Linked DNA regions of Homo sapiens: region 1 is linked to region 2. The links come from fine-mapping of genetic effects on gene expression. Tissue or cell type: whole blood. Region 2 holds a variant in brackets; the other region holds the start of a gene. All regions are shown on one strand. Distances are between the middles of the regions.

Evidence for each region. PIP is the estimated chance that this variant, and not a neighbour inherited with it, causes the effect.
Region 1: TMEM91 starts here. The variant in region 2 is fine-mapped to the expression of TMEM91 in whole blood (TOPMed, PIP above 0.99).

The regions. Positions count from the first base shown.
Region 1 is chr19:41,373,170-41,381,229 of GRCh38, forward strand. It overlaps TMEM91 (transmembrane protein 91), which reads left to right and starts at 3,364. Exons shown (of 4, transcript NM_001098821.2): 1 at 3,364-3,685; 2 at 5,112-5,350. The coding sequence starts at 5,141. RefSeq lists silencers at 3,480-3,609, 6,684-6,857.
Region 2 is chr19:41,399,364-41,407,423 of GRCh38, forward strand. All of the region lies in intron 1 of BCKDHA (branched chain keto acid dehydrogenase E1 subunit alpha), which reads left to right. Among named protein-coding and RNA genes, the nearest start is that of BCKDHA, 5.6 kb to the left of the region's middle. RefSeq lists an enhancer at 7,208-8,060. The variant AG/A (reference allele first, on the strand shown) is at 3,561.

The sequences.
Region 1 (8,060 bases), 26 kb before region 2:
GTTTAAGTAATCCTCCCACCTTGGCCTCCCAAAGTGCTGGGATTACAGGCTTGAGCCACCGTACCCAGCTGGAATCTCATGTTTAATATTCCAGACCTGTCACAAACACTAAGAGGTGTAGCCTCTTAGACTGTACAAGGCTAACGGCAGCCAGAGAGCTCTCACTGGAAGTGAATTAATCTCTAGGATGGCCTAGAGGGATGAGGGGACCCACAGAGCTCAATGATTTGGTGAAAAACTGAGGCTGGAGGCTGATGGGAATTTATGCCCCCATCCCACACATATGTAATAAAGACCCACTTTGTGCCAGGCACTGTTTTAGGCCGTGAGGCACAGTAGTGAAAAAACGAGATCAAATCTCAGCCCTTGTTGTGCCGACACTGATGTGGGAGGATTCAAACTACAAACAAGAAAAATACATGGTATGTTTAAGGCCGGGTGCAGTGGCTCACGCCTATAATCCCAGCACTTTGGGAGGCCAAGGCGGGCAGATCACTTGAGGTCAGGAGTTTGAGACCAGCCTGGGCAACATGGTGAAACTCCGTCTCTACTAAAAGTACAAAAATTAGCTGGGCATGGTGGCAGGTTCCTATAATCCCAGCTACTTGGGAGGCTGAGGTGGGAGAATGGCTTGAACCCAGGAGATGGAGGTTGCAGTGACCTGAGATCGTGCCACTGCACTCCAGCCTTGCTGACTGGGGTTTTGCTATGTCGCCCAGGCTGGTTTCGAACTCCTAGGCTCAAGCAGTCCTCCCTCCTCGGCCTCCCAAAGGGCTGGGATTACAGGCGTGGGCCACCGCACCTGGCCTACAGTATGCTTCATAGAAATATGAAAAGAATGAGAGCAAGGTTGAGATAGAAAGTAACAGGGCATCCCTCCTGAGTAAAACAATCCTGCCCCCTCACGCTCTCGTCTACCCTCCCGTGGGTCTCCCTGCTTCTGTCGTCTGCCAGAAACTGGCTGAGCCAAGTGCACTTGCAGACGCCATCTGTTCTCCCTGGGAGTGGGGCCGGTGCCAGCGCCAGCATCTGGACTCTTGGCAAGGAGCCCTGGAGCCCTGGAGCGAGGGAACTCCGGCCCCACAAAGGCCAGGGAATCCTCCAGTCTGGTGAGACGGAGGGCTTCTGGGAAGGGAGGCCTATACAAGGCTCCATGAAGGAGGTGGAAGCTTGCAAGACGATGATAGTCTTGTAATCAGTCCGATGGAGATGGATGTAAATAATAATATTAATAAACACCATCAAATGTGTTCAGAGTGCTTTCTTTGCCAGGCTTTGGATAAATGTTGGATATCTGTTCTTTTTATTTTTTATTTTTCTATTTCCTAGGCAGCACCTAAACCAAAATAGGTTCAGAGAGGCTCCCAATGTTGGACATTTGTTGTTGCAGCAACTCTAAGTACTCTACATATGTTATCACATAAGAGGCAAGGAGCATTATCCCCATTTTGTAGGTGAAGAAATAGGGGTTCAGAGAGGTGAAGGCATTGTCTAGAGGCCACACACTCAGTGACTTAAAGAGCCTGGAAAGGGGCCAGGAATGGTGGCTCACACCTGTAATCCCAGCACTTTGGGAGGCTGAGGCGGGTGGGTCACCTGAGGTCGGGAGTTCAAGACCAGCCTGACTCATATGGAGAAACCCCATCTCTACCAAAAATACAAAATTAGCCAGGTGTGATGGCGCATTCCTGTAATCCTAACTACTCGGGAGGCTGAGGCAGGAGAATCGCTTGAACCTGGGAGGCGGAGGTTGCGGTGAGCCGAGATCACGCCATTGCCCTCCAGCCTGGGCAACAAGAGTGAAACTCCATCTCAAACAAACAAACAAAGAGCCTGGAAAGGAAACCAGGTCTATGTGGGTCCAAATGCTGACTCATGAACATCACTGTACCACGTGACAATCAGAGCATCACCCCCTACTGGACCCCACTCCTCAGCCTTCTTTCCCTAGAAACTCCTAACCCACCTGCCTCTGCTTCCTCCTCACCCATTGGCTTAGCAAGGGCCACAGGAACACAGCCCGGGGTTACAATATGCTGGGCTTGGTACCAGCTGTTTACTGTGGCCAAGTGAGCATGCAAGTGAGCCCGTTTATTTTCTTTTCTTTTTTTTTTTTTTTTTTTTTTTTTGAGACGGAGTCTTGCTGTTTCCCAGGCTGGAGTGCAGTGGCGCGATCTCGGCTCACTGCAAGCTCCGCCTCCCGGGTCCACGCCATTCTCCTGCCTCAGCCTCCCAAGTAGCTGGGACTACAAGCGCCCGCCACCAAGCCCGGCTAATTTTTTGTATTTTTAGTAGAGACAGGGTTTCACCGTGTCAGCCAGGATGGTCTGGATCTCCTGACCTCGTGATCCGCCCGCCTCGGCCTCCCAAAGTGTTGGGATTACAGGCGTGAGCCACTGCGCCCGGCCCGTGAGCCCGTTTCTTTATCTGCAAAACAGGGATTAAAAACAAGCCAACACCCCTTCAGCACTCCTCCGCAAAAAAACACCCCAAAACAAAATAGGCCAGGCGCGGTGACTCACACCTGTAATCCCACCGCTTTGGGAGGCCGAGGCTGCAGTGAACCCAGGAGTCTGAGGCTGAAGCGAGCAATGATTGCGCCACTGCCTTCCAGCCTGGGCGATCAGAGCAAGACCCCGTCTTTTAAAAAATAATAATAAAAAAAAAATCTGCCGGGCGCGGTGGCTCACGCCTGTAATCCTAACACTTTGGGAGGCTGAGGCGGGCAGATCACCTGAGGTCAGGAGTTCAAGACCAACCTGACCAACACAGCGAAATCTCATCTACTAAAAATACAAAAATTAGCTGGGCGTGGTGGCTTGCCCCTGTAATCCCAGCTACTCGGGAGGCTGAGGCAGGAGAATCGCTTGAACCCGGGAAGCGGAGGTTGCGGTGAGCCGAGATCACTCCACTGCACTCTAGCCTGGGCGACAGAGCAAGACTCCGTCTCAAAAACAAAACAAAACAAACAAAAAAACCAAAGTAAAATAGCAGCGACAACAACAACAACAACAAGAAAAACCCGGAGCTGAGAGGAAGAATGAATGCGATGATGAATGTAAAGCGTTTAACACAGGGCTTGGGTACAGTCTGCCCTCAATGAACCAATGATGTACCCCTAGGCAATTTACCTAACCTCGGCTTGCCAGTTTCCTCCCGCGTGAAACAGGACAATAAACGATTATGCCTCTTAGGGTTGTGCTGAGGAATACATGTGTATGTAAGTTTATTTGCAAAGCACTTAGAACAGGGCGCACGGTCCTTGTTGCTGTTATTATTATTGGCTATTATTGCGCAAAGGGGAAGGGAGGCGGGGCCAAGCCAGGAAGGCCCTGGAGAATCCGGGGTGCCCCCTCCTCCGGCAGAGCTTGGGCCTGGGCTCACGAGGAAGGGGCTGCAGTTCTCCAAGGATTCCCGCCTGCTCCCAGACCCCCGGGAGTCGTAGGAACCCGTTCCTGGACGCTGACGTCGGCTTTCAGGGATCCCTCGCCGGACGCCGCGGAGGGACAGAGCCTGGGAAGCCGTCGCCCCGCCCCGTCCCCGCCCCCGCGCGCAGCGGGCCCGGGGCGCTGAGACCCGCGTAGAGCAAAGCGCAAGGTCCCAGCGCCCCTTGGATCCTCGGTGGCAGGGTCCGGGCAAGTGTCATTGCGAGGGTTCAGGAAGCCCCGGCCTGTGATCGTGAGCGGTGAGTGAGGGACGTAGGTGGGTGGGGGTCACAGTCCCTTCCCTGGGTCCTGGAGTTGGGGATGAGAGGGCAAAGCTTTGGCGAGGAAATCGGCTCAGTCAAGGTTTGGAATGAGCAGGCAGGAGGCTTGGGGACCTTCCAGGGGGATCGTAGGACGAGAAGAAGAATATTCTTTCTGGTTGTGTTGCGTGTGTACGTGTATGTGTGTGCTGGGGTTGAGGGTGTTTATGGGGGCGAGGTGTGCAAAGGATTCTGGAGAGCTGGTGCATGTGTGGGAGTTGTGTGGAGTCATAGGTGTGTGGGTGGAGTAGGGCAGGGGTGCCTGGGCCTGATGAGTGGGGCAGGCATGCCAGAGGTCATGAGAATAGGAGAGAGTGCCGGGGTGCATGTGTGCGTGTGTGCACAGGTGTCTGTGGTTTGTGATGCAGTGGGGAGTAGGGTTGTGCACGGAGTCAATTGGGATAAATGTGTAAGAAGGTTGGGGACCTGAAAGGGGTGTTTTCTGGGAGCTGATGTTTTGGGGCAAATATTCAAGGAGTCCTTTGGGAGATGAATGTGTGGAGGTGGAGGCTGGGCTTGCCTAGATGGGGCTGTGTGGCAGGGGACTTCGGGGGGCAGGTCTAGGGGACAGAGGATGGGGAATGTAGACTAGAGTGCAGTTCCAGGCAGCACTGGGGGTAGGGGATGGGTGTGTGTGTGACTGGGAGGGGTGCCTGGGCCTGGATAGGTGGTCACGCGGTATGAACCTGGGATGGATATTGGGGGTGTTTGTGGGGCAGGTAAGTGTGTAAGGCATGGTGCAACAGGTGCTGCAACTTATTGGGGTAAGTGTGATGGGTATGTGGCTTTTGCCTGAGAGAAATGCCCAGAATTTGGCTGGGTGCGGTGGCTCACGCCTGTAATCCCAGCACTTTGGGAGGCCAAGGCTGGTGGATCCCCTAAGGTCAGGAGTTCGGGACCAGCCTGGTTAACACAGTGAAACCCTATCTTTACTAAAAATACAAAAAAAAAAATTAGCCGGGCATGGTGGTGGGCGCCTGTAATCCCAGCTACTCGGGAGGCTGAGGCAGAATGGTTTGAACCCGGGAGGTGGAGGCTGCAGTGTGCTGAGATCATGCCACTGCACTCTAGCGGATCTGCAGTGGTGGATCTGCCTGGGCAACAGATGGAGACTTTGTCTCAAAAAAAAAAAAAAAAAAGAGAGAGAGAGAGAAATGCCCAAAATTGAATGTCCAGACCCCTGAGTTCTCTTCATAACCTGAGGCCAATCTTTTTTTCTCTCTGGGCCTCAGCTTCTGTATCTGTAAAATGGGTCTGAGGACCACTGCACTAACTAGTCTCTGCCTGAGTCTCTCTAAAGCAAGGGGTCAGAGGTTGAGTGAAGTGAGACTTTTACAACTTGTCTTTTTCTTCCCCCTACCCCTAGGAAACCCCTCCTGGAGTTTCCCCAAAGCCATGGACAGCCCTAGTCTTCGTGAGCTTCAACAGCCTCTGCTGGAGGGCACAGAATGTGAGACCCCTGCCCAGAAGCCTGGCAGGCATGAGCTGGGGTCCCCCTTAAGAGAGATAGCCTTTGCCGAGTCCCTGAGGGGTTTGCAGTTCCTGTCACCGCCTCTTCCCTCCGTGAGCGCTGGCCTGGGGGAACCAAGGCCCCCTGATGTTGAGGTAGGAAACAGCAGGCCTTAGTGGAAGGCACGGGAGGGGGCTGGGGTGAGCCCCACTAAGGCCAGCATCTGGCAGGTTGACAGCTGTGCCGATCTGCCTTAGGCCTGGAGTCTCACTTCCCAGCTGTGTGTGGGCTTCTGAGATTTCCAGTTACGGTTCTTCTTGTTTTATGTCTCTCATCTTTGTTGCCTGGCTTTTGGCTCTGTCTTCCCTCTGATCTCAGACTCCGCTGGTTGGTGTCTTCAGAGTGCATGCACCTCTGGCTTTTGTCCACCCTGCTGTCTCCCTCTTTGTGTGTGTGTGTGAGAGAGAGAGAGAGAGAGAGAGAGAGAGACAGGGTCTCGCTCTGTTGCCCAGGCTGGAGTGCAGTGGAGCGATCATAGTTTACTGCAACCTTGACCTCCCGGGCTTAAGCAATCCTCCCACCTCAGCCTCCTGAGTAGCTGGGACCACAGGCATGTGCCACCATGCCTGGCTAATTTTTTGGTGTTTTTTGTAGAGAAGAGGTTTTGTCATGTTGCCCAGGCTGGTCTCAAACTCCTGAGCTCAAGCAATCTGCCTGTCTTGGCCTCCCAAAGTGCTAGGATTAAAGGTGTGAGCCACCATGCCCAGCCTTCCTTTTTTTTTTTTTTTTTTTTTTTTAAGTTACTGTTGTCACTTTTTATAATTTCTCATTCCAGGCCAGGCACAGTGGCTCACACTGGTAATCCCAGCACTTTGAGAAGGCGAGGCAGGAGGACTGCCTCGCCCAGGAGTTCTAGGCTAGCCTGGGCAACTTAGTGAGACTCCATCTTTATTTTTATTTAATTTTTCATTTTGTCCTCCGAAAATTAGAAAGACCCCATCTTAAAAAAAAAAAAAAAAATTAGCCAGGTGTGATGGCGTGTTCCTGTAGTACCAGCTACTTGGGAGGCTGAGGTGGGAGGATCGCTTGAGCCCAGGCTGCAATGAGCTGTGATCATACCACCTTACTCCAGCCTGGACAACAGAGCAAGACAGACAGAAAGAAAGAAAAAGAGAGGGAGAGGGGGGAGAGAGAGAGAGAGAGAAAGAGAGAGGGAGGGAGGGAGGAAGGAAAGAAAGAAAAGAGAGAGAGAAAGAGAGAAAGAAGGAAGGAAGAAAGAAGGAATGAAGGAAACAAGGAAAGGAAGGAGGGAAGGAAGGAAGGAGAAAGCAGAAAGAAAGGAAGGCAGGCAGGCAACAATCATGATGAACTCTTACGGTTTCTGTTGGTCAGGAATTTGGGACTTAGTTGCATGGTTCTGCCTCTGGATCTTTCTTGAGGTTGCATTCAGCTGGTGGGTGGAACTAGAACAGTCAGGGGCTGGCTGGGCACTTTTCTCTCTCTTCATGGTGTCTTAGGGCTTCCTTTTTTTTTTTTTTTTTTTTTTTGAGATGGAGTTTCACCCTTGTTGCCCAGGCTGGAGTACAATGGTGCAATCTCAGCTCACTGCAACCTCCGCCTCCTGGGTTCAAGCAAATTCCCCTGCCTCAGCCTCCTGAGTAGCTGGATTTACAGGCATGTGTCACCATGCCCAGCTAATTTTGTATTTTTAGTAGAGACAGGGTTTCACTATGTTGGTCAGGTTGGTCTCAAACTCCTGACCTCAGGTGATCCACCCACCTCAGCCTCCCAGAGTGCCAGATTACAGGCGTGAGCCACCGTGCCCAGCCGAGTCTTAGGGCTTCTATGTGGTCTCTCCATGTTTGCTGCCTTGGGATTCCTTACAGCATAACGGCTTCAGGGCAGTCAGGCAGCTTATGTACCTCCAGCCTACAGCATGAATATTGCAGCAAAGCAGAAGCTGCCTCACCTTTTCTGATTTCGCTTTGGAAGTCACGTAACATGACTTCCACCACATTCTATTAATTACAAGTGAGTCATGAGCCTGCTCAAATTCAAGGGGAGGGGACACAGAACTCATCCCTTGATGGGAAGGATATCAAAGTCACATGGTAAGAAAAGCATGTGGGGCCGGGCGCTGTGGCTCATGCCTGTAATCCCAGCACTTTGGGAGGCCAAGACAAGTTAATTGCTTGAGGTCAGGAGTTCAAGACCAGCCTGACCAATGTAGGGAAAGCCCGTCTCTACTAAAAATACAAAAATTAGGCCAGGCGCGGTGGCTCACGCCTGTAATCCCAGCACTTTGGGAGGCTGAGACGGGCGGATCACGAGGTCAGGAGTTCGAGACCAGCCTGGCCAACATGGTGAAACCCAGTTTCTACTAAAGAAAAAATACAAAAATTAGCCAGGTGTAGTGGTGCACACCTGTAATCCCAGCTATTCGGGAGGCTGAGGCAGGAGAATCACTTAAACCTGGGAGGCGGAGGTTGCAGTGAGCCGAGATCACGCCATTGCACTCCAGCCTGGGCAACAGAGTGAAACTCTGTCTCAAAAAAAAAAAAAAAAAAAAAAATTAGCTGGCCGTGGTGGTGGGTGCCTGTAATCCCCGCTTTTGGGAGGCTGAGGCAGGAGAATTGCTTGAACTTGGGAGATGGAGGTTGCAGTGAGCTGAGATTGAGCCACTGCCCTCCAGCCTGGGCAAGACTCTGTCTCAAAAAAAAAAAAAAAAAAAAAAAAAGCTTAAAAATCTAAACTCTAGAGTTTTCAGCAGGCAGGTTTGCCCTAATCATTTAGGCCACTGGAGCATTTTATAATCTCCATCTTTTATTTATTTATTTATTAGTGACAGGGTCTTCTTGCTCCGTT
Region 2 (8,060 bases):
TATCCTCCACAGCTGATCTCAGTCCCAGGGGCCCATTGGCTGGGCAAGTGGGGCAGGAGGTGGGCAGGACTGGGGCAGGCTAGGGAAAGGTCATTTATGGCTGATTAAATCTTTCTCTCCTGTCTCAATCTCTTGATTACCTTTCCTCTTGCTTCCCCTACTTCATTTTTGGTGGGGAGTGGGGAGGGAAGAAGTCCCTACTTTTTATTTATATATATTTAAATTTGTATTATCTTAAGAGTTATTGTTTTTTCCCCTTTATTTCTCCCACCTGTTCTTTCTCTCTTCTTCTTTCTTTCCTCTCCTTCTCCTCTCCTCTCCTCCCCTCTCCTTTTTCTTTTCTTTTCTTTTTCCCTTTCCTTTCCTTTCCTTTTCTCTTCTCTTTTCTCTCTCTCTTTCTTTCTGTACCTCTCTTTCCTTTTTCTTTTTTTTTCTTTTTTGAGACAGAGTTTCACTCTCTCGCCTAGGCTGGAGTGCAGCAGCATGATCTTGACTTACTGCAATCTCTGCCTGCCGAGTTCAAGCAATTCTCCTGCCTCAGCCTCCCTAGTAGCTGGGATTACAGGCATGCACTATCACGCCTGGCTAATTTTTGTATTTTTGGTAGGGACGAGGTTTCACCATGTTGTCCAGGCTGGTCTCGAACTTCTGGCCTCAAGTTCCGCCTGTCTTGGCCTCCAAAAGCATGAGCCACTGCGCCTAGCCTTTTCTTTTTTTGAGACAAGGTCTCACTCTGTCACCCAGGCTGGAGTGAGTGCAGTGGTGTGATCATGGCTCACTGCAGCCTCAACCTCCTGGGCTCAAGCAATCCCCCCACCTCCACCTCCTAAGTAGCTGGGACCACAGGCACGTGCTACTACGCCTGGCTAATTTTTAATTTTTTTTTTTTTTTTTGAGACGGAGTCTTGCTCTGTCACCCAAGCTGGAGTGCAGTGGCACGATCTCGGCTCACTGCAACCTCCACTTCCCAGGTTCAAGTGATTCTCCTGCCTCAGCCTCCCAAATAGCTGGGACTACTGGCGTGCGCCACCATACCCAGTTAATTTTTGTATTTTTAGTAGAGATGGGGTTTCACCATGTTGACCAGGCTGGTCTTGAACTCCTGATCTAAGGTGATCTGCCCGCCTCGGCCTCCCAAAGTGCTGGGATTACAGGCATAAGCCACTGTGCCTGGCTGCGCCTGGCTAATTTTTAAATCTTTGTAGAGATGGGGTTTTGCCATGTTTTCCAGGCTGGTCTTGAACTCCTGGACTCAAGCGATCTTCCTGCCTCAGCCTCCCAAAGTGCAGGATGACAAGCGTGAGCCACCTTGCCTGGCCATATTATTAAATTATCATGAGTTTAAGTTTAAGTAGCCACAAGTGGGCTGGGTGCGGTGGCTCATGCCTGTAATCCCAGCATTTTGAGAGGCCAAGGTGGGCGGGTTGCCTGAGGCCAGGAGTTCAAGACCAGCCTGGCCAACATGGTGAAACCCCATCTCTACTAAAAATACAAAAAAATTAGCTGGGCGTAATGGCGTGTGCCTGTAGTCCCAGCTACTTGGGAGGCTGAGGCAGAAGAATCGCTTGAACCTGGGAGGCGGAGATTGCAGTGAGCCGAGATCGCACCACTATACCCCAGCCTAGGTGACAGAGCAGCCCTCTGTCTCAAAATAAGATAGCCACAAGTGGTTGGTGGCTGCCACATTAGATGGTGCAGGGTTTTTGTTTTGTTTTGTTTTTTGTTTTTTCGAGGTGGAGTTTTGCTCTCATTGCCTAGGCTGGAGTGCAATGGCATGATCTTGGCTCACCACAACCTCCTCTTCCTGGGTTCAAGCGATTCTCCTGCCTCAGCCTCCCGAGTAGCTGGGATTACAGGCATGCACCACCATGCCTGGCTAATTTTGTATTTTTAGTAGAGACAGGGTTTCTCCATGTTGATCAGGCTGGTCTTGAACTCCCGACCTCAGGCGACCCACCCACCTCGGCCTCCCAGAGTGCTGGGATTACAGGTGTGAGCCACCATGCCTGGCTAAGATGATGCAGTTTTATCCAGGTGGAGATGAAGAAATAGTCAGGGAAAGGTTGAGAGGCTGCATATTGTAGACAGATTGGATTACTGGGTTCACTGGGGAAGATTGGATTAGAAGGAGGAGTGGGGCTGCTTTACTTGTCCCCGACTTCTTGCCCCTGCTCTGCCCACTCCTTCATTGAATACCCTGCTGCCCTGCAGATGTGTTTGCCTGATTTTCACCTCCCTTCCTGTCTCTGTTATCATAGCAGACGTTTTAGTGCTCAGGGAAAGGAGGAGGAAGGAAACTCAGATTGTCAAGGAATTGTGAGTCAGTTTCTCAGCCACTACCCCAGGCCTGGGCTTGGCTAAGTCATTTCACCTCTCTGACCCTAGCTAGTGGGGTGAATAGAGTCCCTACCCTGTTGGAAGTCAGGAAGCCCCTGGAGCTCGCTCTGTGCTAATTATCGGTGACTATTTCTGTGACCCAGCTCTTCAGGGGCAGCCTGTCTGGGGGTTCCAGTGCCCTGTGCAGTATCTCCAAGTGGTAGGTACTCAGTGTATGTATTAGTCCGTTTTCAGGCTGCTAATAAAAACACACCCAAGACTGGGTAATTTATAAAGAAAAAGAGGCTTAATGGACTCACAGTTCCACATGGCTGGGGAAGCCTCACAAACATGGCGGAAGGCAAATGAGGAGCAAAGTCACATCTTACATGGTGGCAGGCAGACAGAGTGCTTGCAGGGGAACTCCCCTTTATAAAACCATCAGATCTCGTGAGACTTATTCAGTATAATGAGAACAGCACGTGAAAGATCCACCCCCATAATTCAATTACCTCCCACTGGCTCCTTCCCACAACATGTGGGAATTATGGGAGCTATAATTCAAGATGAGATTTGAGTGGGGACAGAGACAAACCATGTCAGTGTGTATTGTGGGATGAATGGAGATGGTCATTACAGTCTTCTAAGTGTATGGGTCCATCTCTTACTTGCTAGTGTGTTAAGAAACCTGGCCTCCTTTTTCACATCTTGAGGCACTGAATGGTTTACAAATCCAACTCTAATTTTTTATTATATTTAATACACCAATAGTGCAAGGCCTTTATTGGTAGTACTCTCCTATTACAGATGGAGAGACTGAGGCTCAGAGAGGTGAGGTCTGAACTTGGAGCTCTGGACTCCAAAACCCAGTTTCTTTTCATGGTACCAGGCTGCCAGGAGGAGAAAGGATGGAGCTTAGATTCAAGTCTTGCAACATTCTTCTTAGTCCAGTATTGGCTTATTTTGTTTTATATTTTTTTGAGACGGAGTCTTGCTCTGTTACCCAGGCTGGAGTGCAGTGGCGTGATTTCTGCTCACTGCAACCTCTGCCTCCTGGGTTAAGCGATTGTCCTGCCTCCCCCTCTCGAGTAGCTGGGACTACAGGTGTGTGCCACCGTGTCCGGCTAATTTTTATATTTTTAATAGAGACAGGGTTTTGCCATGTTGGCCAGGCTGGTCTCGAACTCCTGGCCTCAACTGATCCACCCACCTCAGCCTCCCAAAGTGCTGGGGTTACAGGCGTG[AG/A]CCACCATGTGTGGCCGGGCAGGTGATTTTTCTTGTCTTTCGCCTCTTTCCACTTCAGTCCCCCTGGCCATCTTTCCCTTCCTTGAATGTGCCTCCTCCCACCTGGTGGCCTTTGTAGGTATGAGGTCCTTCAGATGATGGCTGACATGACACTTCCTCAGAGAAGCGTTCCAGACCCCAAACACCAGGTCTCTGTCTGTGAAACAGGGACAGTGATACCTGCCTAATCTGCACGCCTTTCCCTTCTCACGAGATATTCTGGGAAGGGGGACTCAACTCTTTGCTCTGTTTGAGGGCAGAGTGCCTTTGAGCTCAGGAGAGAGTGGGTTTGGGTGGCCTTAGCTACCCTAGATACGGAGGACTTGGAGTTAACTGGCACCATCCACAAAGCCTTGCATGCACTGGACCTGAACAAGTTGCTTAGCCCTTGAGGCGGCGCCTCAGCTACCACCTGTCTTTGATGGAGTTATGATAACAGTGCCTGCCCCGTCTGGATGCCTTATGGGTTCAGTGAGCACATAGGTGTAAATAAAGTGCTTTGAGTGGCACCTCAGCATGTAGTTATTCTCTGATTGACCTATAGCAGCCATGCCAGTCTTCAGGGTCCCAGGGCGCCAGGCTTTCTTCTCTTGCCTTGGAGCCTTGGTTTTTCCCTAGGACTGAAGTGTTCTGACCCCTTGGCTGAACTCCCCCTTCTTTAGGAAGCTTTCCCTGGTGTGCCATCTGATGCTGGTGCTTCCTGGAGGGGTACTATCTGATCCTAGCTGGTGAGGCATTCCTGCCAGAGCTGCGGCAGGTGCTTTCCCCGCCTCTCCACCAGCCTGTGAGGTGGATGCCATCCCCACGAGGGCACGCAGGTTCACAGAGACTGGCTCCTGTCCAAGGCCGCGTGGCTGGAAAGAGACAGAACCAGATTCAAACACCAGCAGTTTAACCCTAGAGACCCTCATCCTACCTCCTATGTGGGTAACCACTATACATCCTGCCTCCTCTGAAATCTCCCGTTTTTTTTTATTTTAAAATTTTATGTGAGTATTTACTTATTTATTTGCTGCTGTTGTTATTGTTTTGAGACAGAGTCTTGCTCTGTTTTCACCCAGGCTGGAGTGCAGTGGTGCGATCTTGGCTCACTGCAACCTCTGCCTCCTCGGCTCAAGCGATTCTCGTGCCTCAGTCTCCCGAGTAGCTGGGACTACAGACATGCACCACCATGCCTGGCTAATTTTTGTGTCTTTAGTAGAGATGGGGTTTCGCCATATTGGCCAGGCTGGTCTTGAACTCCTGGCTTCGAGTGAACTGCCTGCCCTGGCCTCCCAAAGTATTGAGATTATAAGCATAAGCCACTGTGCCCGGCCAAAATTTTATTTATTTATTTATTTTTTTGAGATGTAGTCTTGCTCTGTCACCCAGGCTGGAGTGCAGTGGCACAATCTCGGCTCACTGCAAGCTCTGCCTCCCAGGTTGACGCCATTCTCCTGCCTCAGCCTCCCGAGTAGCTGGGACTACAGGCGCCCGCCACCACGCCCGGCTAATTTTTTGTATTTTTAGTAGAGATAGGGTTTCACCTTATTAGCCAGGATGGTCTCGATCTCCCGACCTCATGATCCGCCCGCCTCGGTCTCCCAAAGTGCTGGGATTACAGGCGTGAGCCACCACGCCCAGCCTAATTTTATTTATTAATTTATTTGAGATGGAGTCTCACTCTGTCACCCAGGCTGGAGTGCAGTGGTGCGATCTTGGCTCACTGCAACCTCCACCTCCCAGGTTCAAGCGATTCTCCTGCCTCAGCCTCCTGAGTAGCTGGGACTATAGGTGCGTGCCACCACGCCTGGCTAATTTTTGTATTTTTAGTAGAGATGGGGTTTCACCATCGTGATCAGCCTGACAGGCTGGTCATGAACTCCTGACCTTAAGTGATTCACCTGCCTCAGCCTCCCAAATCTGCTGGGATTACAGGCATGAGCCACCGCACCCAGCCATATTATTTCTGTATTTTCATTTGGCTTACCTGTCAACTTGACACTTTTTTGTTTTTTTAGGCTAGTCAGGTGAAGCAATGTGAGTAAGATCACCTGTCTTGATTATAACTTGTGTGTTCAGTGTTTGTCATTCATCCCTCCCTGTCTCTAGCCTTCAGTTCAGGGCATGATTTGGAGCAAATGTTCAGTATCTGTTTAACAAGAACAATCATGAGAAATACTTACTCACTACTTGTGTTTATGAAACATTATGTGCCAGGCACTGGGCTGAGCAATCCACACAGGTCAACTCGGTTAATCCTCATGACAACCCCTGAGATAAGTACTTATACCACCCTCGGTGTACACAGGAGGAAACTGAGGCTCAGGGAGTTTTTCTTTAAAAATTTTTTCTTTTTTTTTTCCTTGAGACAGGTCTTACTTTGTCACCCAGGCTGGAGTGCAGTGGTGTGATCTTGGCTCACTGCAGCCTCTTGGGCTCCAGCGATCCTCCCACCTCAGCCCCTCAAGTAGTTGGGGAGTACAGGTGTGCACCACCATGCCCAGCTAATTTTTTGTAGGGATGGGGTCTTGCCATGTTATCCAGGCTGGTCTTGAACTCCTGGGCTCAAGCGATCCTCCCTCCTTGGCCTCCCAAAGTGCTGGTATTACAAGTGTGAACCACCACACCTGGCCTTAAATTTTATTTATATATTTATTTTTGTAGAGACGAGGTCTCACTATGTTTCCCAGGCTGGCCTCGAACTCCTGGACTCAAGTGATCCTCTTGCCTCAGCCTCCAGAGTAGCTAGAATTACAGGCGTCTGCCACTGCACTTGGCTCAGGGAGTTTAAGTCACATAATCAGGCAGCGGTCTGCTCAGTTAGAGTCCATGCGCTTAGCCATGGTGCCTTCAAGTGACTCCACCAGGGTCACCCCAGTACTTCCTGGGCAGACCAGACCATCCAGAGCGGGCAGGTTGTGCTTTCCTGCATGGTGGGAGAGGACGTGGCATGAAGCTTTGTGTAAATCTGTGCAGCCTCTGCCATTGTAAATCACTGGCCACCGGGACAGACTCCCCCACCCCCTTCCAAAAACTAGAGGAACAGATGGGTGGAGTCGCATCCTTCCTCTGCAGGCATTTGGCCACCCACTCCCATTATGGAGCATTTCCTCAGGACCAGGCACAGCGTGGAGCCCTTTGCATAGCTCACTGAATTGGGGCAGCAACCCTGGGGCTGGGGACTACCATTATCTCCACCAGCCCAGCAAAGAGGGGAGGAGGGTACAGCCGAGACCCAGCTGCAGTATGTGGAGCACACTGGGGTGCCGTGAAGATAGCTGTCCAGCCTCTAGAGGCTGACAGTCCTGCCCTGACACAGTGGTTTGTTCTCAGACTCTGGCCTCCCCTCTTAGTGCCCGTCTGAAGACTTCAGCCTTCGGTCCTCTTCCATCAGCATGCCGTCTCCCCTGTGCCTCAGTCTCCCTCTCTGGAGTATCTGCTGGGGCCACAGTTTGGTTTTATTGTTCTTTGAGACAGGGTATCACTTTGTTGCCCAGGCTGGAGTGCAATGGTGCAGTCATGGCTCACTGCAGCCTTGACCTCCTGGGCTCAAGCCATCCTCTCACCTCAGCCTCCCGCAACTCCAGTATCTGGACTACATGTAAATGCCACCATTCCCAGCTAATTTTTTTTTTTTTTTTTAGATAGAGTCTCACTCTTGTCACCCAGGCTGGAGTGCAATGGTGCCATCTTGGCTCACTGCAACATCCGCCTCCCAGGTTCAAGCCATTCTCCTGCCTCAGCCTCCCAAGTAGCTGGGATTACAGGCACCTACCATCATGCACGGCTGTTTTTTGTATTTTTAGTAGAGACAGGGTTTCACTATGTTGGCCAGGCTGGTCTTGAACTCCTGACCTCAGGTGATCTGCCTGCCTCGGACTCCCAAAGTGCTGGGATTACAGGCGTGAGCCACCACGCCCAGCCTTCCTGGCTAATTTAAAAATTTTTCAGAGACGAGGGTTTTGCCTAGGCTGGACTCACTATGTTGCCTAGGCTGATCTCGAACCACTGGCCTTAAGTGATCCTCCCACCTCAGCCTCCCAAAGTACTGGGATTACAGGCATGAGCCGCTGCACATCGCCACAGTTTGATTTTAGTATCCACTTTAAGGTGCAGTTAGTTCTTCCCAGCTCCTCTTTTCCCTATCTCATACAGTGTAGTCACTTCCCTTTCTCCCACTTCTCACCTTCCTAGATTTTGTTTTTCTCTCTCTTACCAAGTTTTGAGTATGTAATACGTCCCAGATCGGTGCTGAACCCCTGGTGTGAGTTAACTTAGCAACTTTTCACGTGGTGTTCTGCAGCCTTCTTACAGATAAGGAAATTCAGAGAGGTGAAGTGTTTTTGCAGAGAGCCACACAATGAGCTAAGAAATTAGAACCCAGGGCAGTTGAACTCCAGAGCCAGGGAACTTAACAGCCCATTCATGCATTCACTCAGGAATTCCCTCTTGAGTGCCTGCTGTGAAGGCAACCTGGA